Regions from separate parts of the Homo sapiens genome. Here region 2 is linked to region 1. Evidence: fine-mapped QTL for protein levels in blood plasma. Region 1 holds a variant in brackets. A gene starts in the other region. All regions are shown on their forward strands. Region 1 overlaps ACKR1 (atypical chemokine receptor 1 (Duffy blood group)). Region 2 holds the start of CCL14 (C-C motif chemokine ligand 14).

Evidence for each region. PIP is the chance, under the fine-mapping model, that this variant and not a neighbour inherited with it causes the effect. The UK Biobank Pharma Proteomics Project read protein levels with antibody pairs (Olink). The fine-mapping took linkage between variants from a reference panel, not from the people measured, so its PIPs are less certain.
Region 2: CCL14 starts here. The variant in region 1 is fine-mapped to the plasma level of the CCL14 protein (UK Biobank, PIP above 0.99).

What each region holds. Positions count from the first base shown.
Region 1 is chr1:159,205,502-159,210,501 of GRCh38, forward strand. ACKR1 (atypical chemokine receptor 1 (Duffy blood group)) reads left to right here. Exons shown (of 2, transcript NM_002036.4): 2 at 1-999. The coding sequence ends at 949. Among named protein-coding and RNA genes, the nearest start is that of ACKR1, 3.1 kb to the left of the region's middle. The variant C/T (reference allele first, on the strand shown) is at 203.
Region 2 is chr17:35,983,346-35,988,868 of GRCh38, forward strand. It overlaps CCL14 (C-C motif chemokine ligand 14), which reads right to left and starts at 3,384. Exons shown (of 3, transcript NM_032963.4): 1 at 3,226-3,384; 2 at 993-1,107; 3 at 1-543. The coding sequence starts at 3,304. The coding sequence ends at 456. CCL15-CCL14 (CCL15-CCL14 readthrough (NMD candidate)) reads right to left here. Exons shown (of 7, transcript NR_027922.3): 5 at 3,226-3,359; 6 at 993-1,107; 7 at 311-543.

The DNA of each region.
Region 1 (5,000 bases):
CTTCGAAGATGTATGGAATTCTTCCTATGGTGTGAATGATTCCTTCCCAGATGGAGACTATGGTGCCAACCTGGAAGCAGCTGCCCCCTGCCACTCCTGTAACCTGCTGGATGACTCTGCACTGCCCTTCTTCATCCTCACCAGTGTCCTGGGTATCCTAGCTAGCAGCACTGTCCTCTTCATGCTTTTCAGACCTCTCTTC[C/T]GCTGGCAGCTCTGCCCTGGCTGGCCTGTCCTGGCACAGCTGGCTGTGGGCAGTGCCCTCTTCAGCATTGTGGTGCCCGTCTTGGCCCCAGGGCTAGGTAGCACTCGCAGCTCTGCCCTGTGTAGCCTGGGCTACTGTGTCTGGTATGGCTCAGCCTTTGCCCAGGCTTTGCTGCTAGGGTGCCATGCCTCCCTGGGCCACAGACTGGGTGCAGGCCAGGTCCCAGGCCTCACCCTGGGGCTCACTGTGGGAATTTGGGGAGTGGCTGCCCTACTGACACTGCCTGTCACCCTGGCCAGTGGTGCTTCTGGTGGACTCTGCACCCTGATATACAGCACGGAGCTGAAGGCTTTGCAGGCCACACACACTGTAGCCTGTCTTGCCATCTTTGTCTTGTTGCCATTGGGTTTGTTTGGAGCCAAGGGGCTGAAGAAGGCATTGGGTATGGGGCCAGGCCCCTGGATGAATATCCTGTGGGCCTGGTTTATTTTCTGGTGGCCTCATGGGGTGGTTCTAGGACTGGATTTCCTGGTGAGGTCCAAGCTGTTGCTGTTGTCAACATGTCTGGCCCAGCAGGCTCTGGACCTGCTGCTGAACCTGGCAGAAGCCCTGGCAATTTTGCACTGTGTGGCTACGCCCCTGCTCCTCGCCCTATTCTGCCACCAGGCCACCCGCACCCTCTTGCCCTCTCTGCCCCTCCCTGAAGGATGGTCTTCTCATCTGGACACCCTTGGAAGCAAATCCTAGTTCTCTTCCCACCTGTCAACCTGAATTAAAGTCTACACTGCCTTTGTGAAGCGGGTGGTTTCTTATTTTGTCTGGGGAGAAGAAGGAGAATGGAGAGAGAGACATTTTTATGTCAGACTTTCTTGCCAGTGTCTGCTTCTATAGCTGGCTTGGGAAGAAGGTGAATGATGAATAAATACCCTCAGGGTACACAGATGTTCTCTTGAGGTGTGGGGTCACGGCCATCTCAAGGGAGAAGAGAAGAGGAACCAGAGCATGAGGGGAGTCATTAAACCAAAAAAAACAGAAGGGATGGCTTAGCTGGAAAAAAAGCTGTTCTGGGAAGCAAATGGAATAGGAACTCAAACTGAGAGATAAACAGTGAAGAGTGATGACAAAGCCCAGAGCAATACCACCTCCCCCTGTCCAACCTGCCCAGCCTCTGTCTTCTGTCTCCTCTCTGGCTTTGTTTAGTGATTAGGACAGTGGTGGGGAAGGTGAAAGAAGCATCCCAGGGGATGTTACTCAGTTCAGGGAACATATCAAGGTAATTTAAAAAGCCACTTCCTGGGAGTCATCTCTCCCAGGTTCCTCAGCATGACCTGAATGTGCGTGCGTGTGTGTGTGTGTGTGTGTGTACACATCTGTTTCTCGATCTGTTAGAATCTACCTTTATGTTAGATGTATGCATGTAAAAACATATGTCCACCCATGAGCTTGCATCTCTGTCAGCACCTGAACTGCGCACACCTGTGCGTGTGCACTGACTTTTCTCAGGACCCAAACCCCCACTCAATTCTGCACTCATCCCTGTTCACAGGATATAGAATCGGGATTTATGACTCACTCCTTACCCAAATGAGTTTTCTTTACCCTGGTTTTTAAGCCTAGTCTTTTCTGTGTAGGATGTGTGGAGGGAAGAAAAGATCAAGAAGTTGTGAAGGGTGGAGAAACTTGAAGGGGGAGGCCCTGATTTGATTCATCTTCTGCTTGGAATTCCCCGAATTTCCCTTTCAGAATCTCAGCTTTTGAAATAAACCTTTATTTCCCACATACATCTTTCCTTCCACCTTCCACACAATACCCCAATCCCCTGGGCACCTTTTTCCCAACCCCTGATTCTCTGGCTGCTTAATCATGACCTTTGAGATTTTTCTCAGTCTCTACCTACCCAAGTTTAGATGGCTGGAAGGACAGAAACCCCTCCTCATCAGGGGCACAGCTTTTACCACCAAGAGCAAATTCACCCTCTACCCAAGAGGCTACAAAACAGTTAGTTCCTACCTCTAACCCAACTAAAGGCTGGGGAAACTTGAGCAGATACGTTCTATCAGTTTGAACCCAATTACCATCTTACCATTTTCCAAAGATATGCTATACCTGGTTTCTTTACTAAAATGTTTCTGCTTGACTCTCTGGGCTTGGGAATAGTAGGCGAGTGCGGGAGAGGTGCAGAGATGAGTTAGAATAGCTTAGGCAGGAGGGTGCAAAAGGCTTAGGGAATTTTCCTGGGTGGGTGCCACGACAAGGCCTCTAAATCTCCCACCTCCTGTCTCTTAGCAACCACCAGGTTAGCTCCTGATTGGTTCGTCCTCAATTGAAAGGCGGGATTTAGGGACCGATTGAGACGCGGGAGACATTCTGAAACAGAAAGGAAGGGAGAGAAAATGAAGAGAAAGGAAATAATTTACAAACCTAAATTATGCTCTGGTTTCCAACCACAGTTCATGAATGTGTTCTAGTATTTTTTCCCCCGCTTTTTTTTTTCCAGGCTTCTCTCAATATCCCCCTCCCGTCCTTGACCACTCTTGCAATTCTACCAGATGTTGCTGTCCTCCCTTACAAGGTACTGATTTGGAAGCTGACCTAGTTGAGGGGGAGGAGAGGGCGTTTTTGACTCCCTGAATCTTCCAGTGTCAACCTGATGCAAGGGAGGCTTAATTTAAGACCAGTAGGCTTGTCTTATCTGCCCCCAACCCTGTGCCTCTGGATAGAAATCCCTGGTCAGTCAGTCCAGTTAGAGAGAACCCCAGACTCCTGGGTAATAGCTTGGCAGCTCTCATGGCTTTCACAAGGGAAAGGCAGCTGCAGAAGCCCGAAGCTGCTAAGAGGTTAGGGTGGGCTGGAGACAGTGCCCTACCCCCGCCCCCTGCTACATCCTCCTCATCCCCACCCCCACCGGGATTGCTCCAGGCCTTTTGGGCTGCCCTTTCCCTGCCATTACCTAGGCAGCACTTGGAGAGCTCCTCCTTAAGTCTAACCCGGACCTCAGTCATTTCTTTAAAGCTTTCTTGGGGACCTGCCACCCCATGCATTTAACCCACTGCATGCCATCAACCACTCTAAAATTGGTCTGAGTCTGGCATCTTTTCTGCAACCCTTCAGGAATACAAATCCTGTCTCCTTAAAGCCCTTAAGAATTTAATCTTAGGGTTGGCAGGGACTTTAGCTGTGTATGAGATATTGGGCATCCTAGCTAAAGAAAAAAATCCTCTCAGAAAGATGAGAGCCAGGGAAGCAAGCTCTTGGGAAAACACAGGACCCTGAGGAAGGTCAGTTTGCTTTGCTTTCTAAAGGAGAGAGATCTATTATTCAAGGGAAGTTTGAACATCACATTGACGCTCATAGTTCATTTATTCCAAGCTGAGGCCCCTCCCTTAGGATTTAGAAAACAAATACTTGGTCCTCACACCCTTTTTCCATTCCTATTTCCCTATCCCCCAACCCCATCACCACCTTCCTCCCTCAGAGGAATTCTGATTGAGAACTTCACTGGGATTTCAAACCCAATTCATCGCCAACTCTAATTGCCAGAGATTTGCATGAAAACCATCGTATGCTATCTAATTATTCTGACAACAGCAGCCCGCCGTCTGGGCACAAGGAGAATCGGAGTTTTAATTAACAATAATGCACCTTGCTGACGAATGCGACTGTTTAGGTTAATTAACAAGTCCAAGTCCTTCCAAATCATCTCTAGACATCTAGGTGATTTGGGCAGGAAGGGTGTGGGGAACACAGGGAGGGATGGGGAGTGTTTAAGCATCATTTCTGCAAAAATGCACGTTAGCTTTCTTCTTTCCTGTAACTATTTGGTGAAGGGAAGAGAAACTCTCTAAGAGACTGGCTCTGGAAAATTGGTTGGGGGATTTTGAGAACATCTTCTTTTTTTTTTTTTTTTTTTGAGACAGAGTCTCACTCTGTTGCCCAGGCTGGAGTGTAGTGGTGCAATCTTGGCTCACTGCAACCTCCGCCTCCCAGGTTCAAGTGATTCTCCTGCCTCAGCCTCCTGAGTAGCTGGGATTACAGGTGTGCACCACCACGCCAGGCTAATTTTTTGTATTTTTAGTAGAGACGGGGGGGTCTCACCAGTTTGGCCAGCCTGGTCTCGAACTCTGACTTCAGGTGATCCACCTGCCTCAGCCTCCCAAAGTGCTGGGATCACAGGCGTGAGCCACCGCGCCCGGCGGGAACATCATTTTAAGGGGATGTATCAGACATCTTTATGTTGCACTTAGATTTAGGAAATCTTTTGGATACATTTTTATAAATGAGAAGATTAAGTTCTTATAGCTCTCTAGTATCTCAAAATCATTGCCTGATTGTTTGCAAACTTGGTTTCTAGCATGAAAGTCTCAACTTCCCCATCAATGCCATTTGTCCTCAGCTTTCTCTATATGTTCCTACCACATCTGTGGTCATTTAAAGTTGCCTACTGCTTGTGAACCCGGGAGGTGGAGCTTGCAGTAAGCCGAGATCGCGCCACTGCACTCCAGCCTGAGCGACAGAGTGAGACTCCATCTCAAAAAAAAAAAAAAAAAAAGTTGCCTACTGCCTTTGGTTTCCCAGATAACGTGTCAAGTTTCACCCTTGCCCTCTTCAAAGATAACTGTATTTTTTTTTCCTGGGTAGTTCTCCGTATCATGCAAAAATACATTGTATGTAGCTCCAAACTGTACCTTTCATCTTTCTAGTCTTTCTAAGAGCATGGACCTAGTCTTTTTCCTCTAAATAGGGTATTGCTAATGTTTACGGGATAGGAGGAGGGTTATAGGCCTCTTAGAAAATCCAG
Region 2 (5,523 bases), not on the chromosome of region 1:
GTAGCTTTTACACTTGTCATGAAGCTTAAATAAGATAATGCATACAGACTGCCTAGCAGAGTGCTTGGAGTATAGAAAGCATTAAGAAAACGGGGTCTGCTACTGTTGTTGCTGAGGAGGAGACGGTCTTTACACTGCTTTTCTTTCTCACTTTCTGCTTCTCACTACCTGCATTGCAGGCCTGACCTATTTTTTGTACCAGGCTCCAGCAAAACTTCTGCAGAGCGAGGCTTGATGCCGAGGGTGCCACACCCTGGTGTCCTCAGTGCATGGCCAATGAGTAAATCCCGTAGAAAGGAATGAGGCCAGGGAAGAGCATGAGTGGTCTTTAATTCAAAGCAGGGAAGCTCCAAGAGGGTGACTGGGGCTGAGAGTTAGCGGTGGGTGGAGGAGGGGGCCTTGGCATCTTCTCTTTATGTCTCTGAGCTGTGCCTTCGCCACCCCTTCTGGGTCACTCAGTTCTCCTTCATGTCCTTGATATAGTCCTGGACCCACTTGTCACTGGGGTTGGTACAGACGGAATGGCCCCTTTTGGTGATGAAGCTGTGGAGCAAGAGGGAGAAGGATCACAAACCGAGGGGCCCAGTGGCCGGAAGAGACAGCCCATCTTCCCTCCCTCCTAAATTCCCCACCTGACCTATACTGCTTTTCCTTTCTTCCACAGAGGCAGCTTAGAGCCAGTCTCCTCTCTGAGACATACTCTTCGGTTCCTAGGACCCCTAGACCCATCTAGTCTCTGTGTCCCCCTGAGGAAGTGCCCTCTTGCCTTCTTCTCCCTTCTCTGTCATCTCCCCATCCATGGGGTCAGTTTCCCCATGGCTCCTGCAGGCTCCAGCCAGAAAGCGCTCAGATTGCCCCTCAGCTGCCTCTCCCCATGTAGTCACACCTGGGAGGTACGCTGGGGGTCCCCATTCCACCACCACTCCCTGCTTCCCTCCAGGAGGCCCTGCTGGCTCCCTCTCCCCCCAGTGTGATGTGTGTGTACCACCTACACAATTCCGGGCTTGGAGCACTGGCTGTTGGTCTCATAGTAATCCATAATCCGCTGACGCGGGATCTTGTAGGTAGTGTAGGTGAAGCAGCACTCTGAGGGGTGGTAAGGTCCCCCTGAGGAGAGAGCATCAGATGCTGAGGAGGGGCCCCTTGTTAAAGGCCATACCATTGGCTGCTCCTGCAAGCTGAGGGCATGGAGGAGGGAAGGAAGGAGGAGACAGCCCCTCAGAACTTGGAGGGGAGAGTAGGCTTTCCTCATCTTCTCTTCTCCTTCTCCATGGTACTCCTGGGCTCTTCTTTTTCTCCTCCCTCATCATCAATCACCCTTCCTCCTTTTCTTCAACCCCTCTTGGAAAGACTGGTGGATGACTTTCAACTCCAGGATTGAAGAGCAGCACACTCAGATCTTCTTACACCATCTCTGGGGGCCGACTGGCAGAGAAGGCTAGGGACTTGGCCAATATCATGCAGCCTTCATGCCTTATTCGGGAAAGGTGCTCCAAATAGGAGGAATATTTGGAAGAAATCCCAATAGGGATTTGGAGACATGCCATTTGGGAATGCAAACCCAGCCCCTCCTAGTGCTCCACCCTGCCCATGTCCCCATTGAACCGACAACCTGCAGAGAGAGCAGGATGCCCACAGCAAGCCCCAAGGACAAAGGCCACAGAGTCAGGGCACCCAAATCCTAACCTAACCTTGCCTGTGCTTCCTGTGTACTGTGGCCATTTTACTTTCCCCCTGTTCCCTCCTCTGTAAATGAGGCCCTTGGACTGCATCAGTGGTTTTTACACTGAGCTCCCTGGAGCTCTGGGGGCCTCAGGGACTATTGTGGAGGCCTTGCTGCATTTGAGAGTGGTGTCTTGTACCCTACTCAACCCATTTTTTCTGTTTTACATATTGGGCCTCTGTGGAAGATATTGCTTGAAGAAAAGGTTTTGTGGTCTAAAAAGTTTTAAAAATCACTGGATTGGGTGATTTTTTCATCTATTTTCTGATTGAGAAGTTTCATGGCTTTTATAGGAGAAGCAAGGTGACAGCAGCCACCCCAAGCTTGAATTATAGAGGTAGCAGGAAGGACATTGTAGGCCAAGAGCCCTGTACAAACAGGCACATGTTGTGGTTATGGAGTGGAGAAATCAGGTGTGTGCATGTTATGTGACCCTGCTTCATAGAATCATGGATGTGCATCACAATGGCCTCAGAGGTCACTGAGGGTGGCCAGATGTCTGGGTGGAAGGGTCTCATCCTGTTTTCCAGCTCCATTCCAGGCAGCATCCTCACGATCCAAAGAACGGCATAAGGGGCCCCTGTTTCCTGAGACCCAGTCAGAGCTCCTATACTCTCCCACCTTGTTCCTCTGAGCTGACAAATGACATCGGAGAGGGCAAGTCAAACTGTGCACATACCCACCAACTTTAGCTGTATTTTAACAACCTTCGGTTTCCCCCCAGTTTCTGAAAAGGAGAGTAGGTAAAATGGAAGAGTGATAAATAGTTTTGGTTATCTCTAAAGGCAGCTTATTCTAAGAAATCAGCTGAGAAAAGGGGGCCTAGGATGGACCCCACACTGTCGTGTTTCCCCCCAGCCCATACCCAAGCAATGCTGCACTCACTGGGCACAGGTGACGCTGGAAGCAGGCTGGGCCCAAACCTCAGGAGGCCAATAGAAAAATGCCCTTGAGGGGCTCAAGACACTGCTCCTAATCTCCCTGAGGAAATATACCCCAAATGGGGTGGGCCACTCTTTTGCTTAGCGGCAAAGAGAGAGAAATTGAGGGAGTAGAGAGGCAGGCTGGTCTCACTCCATGTCCTTGAGGGCAAGGGGGGACTGGTCCTGGGGGGCAATGATAAGAGATCAAGGCCATGTGAGGCCTGGAGATTCAGGATCTGTTTATTTGGAGACTAGAGGGCATTTGGGGTAGTGGAATGAAGCCTGGAGTCTCCCAAGTCAAGTCTCATTGGTCAAGGCTGGAAGATCCCAACTTAAACTCTTAAGCAGAACCTACAGTCCTAAGTCTCATCTCCATCCTGCTCACCACACCATGGGGTGAAGTGCTGTGGTGCTCAGTAGATAATTCATTTATATAATGTTGCTATACACACAATTTCAAGAAGATACCAGCCCTCCTTTCTGAGTCCCTGCTCCTGGTCTTCCCCTGAGCCCCAACCTCACTCCTGCTTATTTCCCTGCAGGCTCTAGGTTGGAAGGAAGACAAGGCATTGCACTCACGTGAGGAGGATTCAGTCTTGGTCCCTAGGGCGATGGTGATGAGGAGGAAGAAGGGAATGGCAGCCACGGAGATCTTCATGCTGTGGGAAGCTGTTGTGGGAGGAGAGCTGGCCTGGTGGGAGCTTCAGAGGCTCCTGCGGTGAGGAATTGTTGAGAAATGATCATTGAGGCCAAATATTTTTTAAAATAAGGGAGCTGAGACTTGGAAGGGAAGTAGGAAAGCAGTGATGCCTCAGCAATTTCATATCCTGCACATGTGTTGTTGGTGGCCTGAAGGAAGCAGGGAGAGCCAAGGTTTAAGGGAGGAAATGGTCTTCCATCCCCAGTGGGAAGAAGTTCAACTCTTTTGATAGAAGCCTTTCCCTAGGCATGAACATGAGCACAGGGCTGGGGGCACTGTGTCACACTTAGCAAAAGATCTCAAGGCTGGATGTGTCCTGTATCCAATTCCATCTCAGGCCTTAGAACAGGCCACGTGGGGCCTGGACATTCAGGATCTGTTCATCTAGAGACTAGAGGGTGTTTGGGGTAATGGAATGAGGCCAGGACTCCTCCAAGTCAGGTCTCATTGGTCAAGGGAAATCCTAACTTAAACTCGAAGCAGAACCTGCAGTTCTCTGTCTCATCTCCATTCTGGTCACCACACCATGGAGTGAAGAAGTGCTGTGGTGCTCAGTAGATAATTCACTTATATAATGGTTGCTATACACACAAGCCACTGTCCCAGTTGCCTTATGAATATTAGCCTATTTAATCTTTAGAACAGCAGTTGAGGAAACAGGCTCAGAATCAAAGCCTAAGCTTTTGACAGTTGGTAAATGGAACTGGGGTTCAAATTCAGGTGGTTTGGCTTCCAAGTCTGTGTTCTCACCCATTATGCCATAAAGAAACATGGGACTCCCAACGGAGCTCTGTAAAAGCTTATGGGTTTTCTATAAAGCCTTTAGTCTTAGTCCTTTCTGAAATCAGATAGTGGATCTCTTTGGGACCTTCTCCTGGTTTCTCTGACTTTTGCTGCAAAGAAGCTTGGTGGGAACCCTAGAAAATGTCTAATTCAGGGATAGCTAGTAGGTTTCATTGATTAGTGGTGGACTGGAGCTCTGTGTTGGAAATGATTCTGAGGCCATATCCAGGCACATTGGGAAGATACGCTGTGACCAACGTGCAGTTTCTGTTGCAGTGCAGCTTGCATGCTATGTATCTGCCATTTGATTTGTCTAAACTGGCCATTTACTGAATGGAAGCTGGGAATCAGAAAGGACCAGTGACTTTCTCATGTGCACACAGTGATTTGGATGCAGGACAGATCTCATCTCCGCAGGCTCTCAGCTTAGTGCCCTCACCATGCTGTTCTTGGAGGTACATCCCCCATTCTGCTTGCTGATGTGGTTAGATGGTTATTTAATCTCCTCTCCTCATCTGAATCATCAGGATGGAGAACATCTATTATTTATCTTTGCCCATTCACGCAGAACCTAGTGTATACCAGGTGCTTTATGAATATACATTTTAAAAGAAGGATGAATAAACAAATTGAGCCAGGTCTACATATGTGTATCTTATAGGAAATGGCTGAAATCTCATGGTTAGTTGTGGAGACAGTCATCAATTAAAAATTTTCTATATTTCTTATCATCAATAACAACATTATGTAAACCCTTCAAGTTAAATGATAATAATTGTTATCAGGAACAATCTCAGGAAACAAGTTGTTTATAGGAAAAGTGAGTTGGAAAGAAATAATGCTTACTTCTTGTTTTTGTGGAAACTAGCCAACCTGCCAAGTTGTTTCTAGGAGACTTACAGGAAGTTCCTGTACTTTTCCAGCAAGTATTGAGTTCCTACCTACATTAGTCTGTGTGTGCCAACTGCTATCATAAACAATCCAGCAGACTAATTAAATAAAAGTTTATTTCTTGCTCATGTTACAGTCCAGTGTGGGTCAGTAGTGGGATGATGGTGTGTGTGTTGGGATCCTCCATGTACTCATTCAGGAACCAGGCCTTTTTCTACCTTGGATGCCACCATTTTCAGCACAAGGCCTCCAAGCTTGATACAAAAAGGGAGAAGCAGAGGAGGATTGGGAGATTTTTGTGGATCAGTTCTGAAAATGGTACAAATTACTTTCACCCACATTCCATGGCCAGCATCAAGTAACCTGGCTCCAACATAATGACAAAGGGATGGAAAATATACATCATCTGTATGCTTAGGAAGAAAAAGGAATAGGTTTTGTGACCACATCACTTCTTTGACACAGTATCATATGCCAAGTCCTGGGCTAGGCTTGGAGGGAGG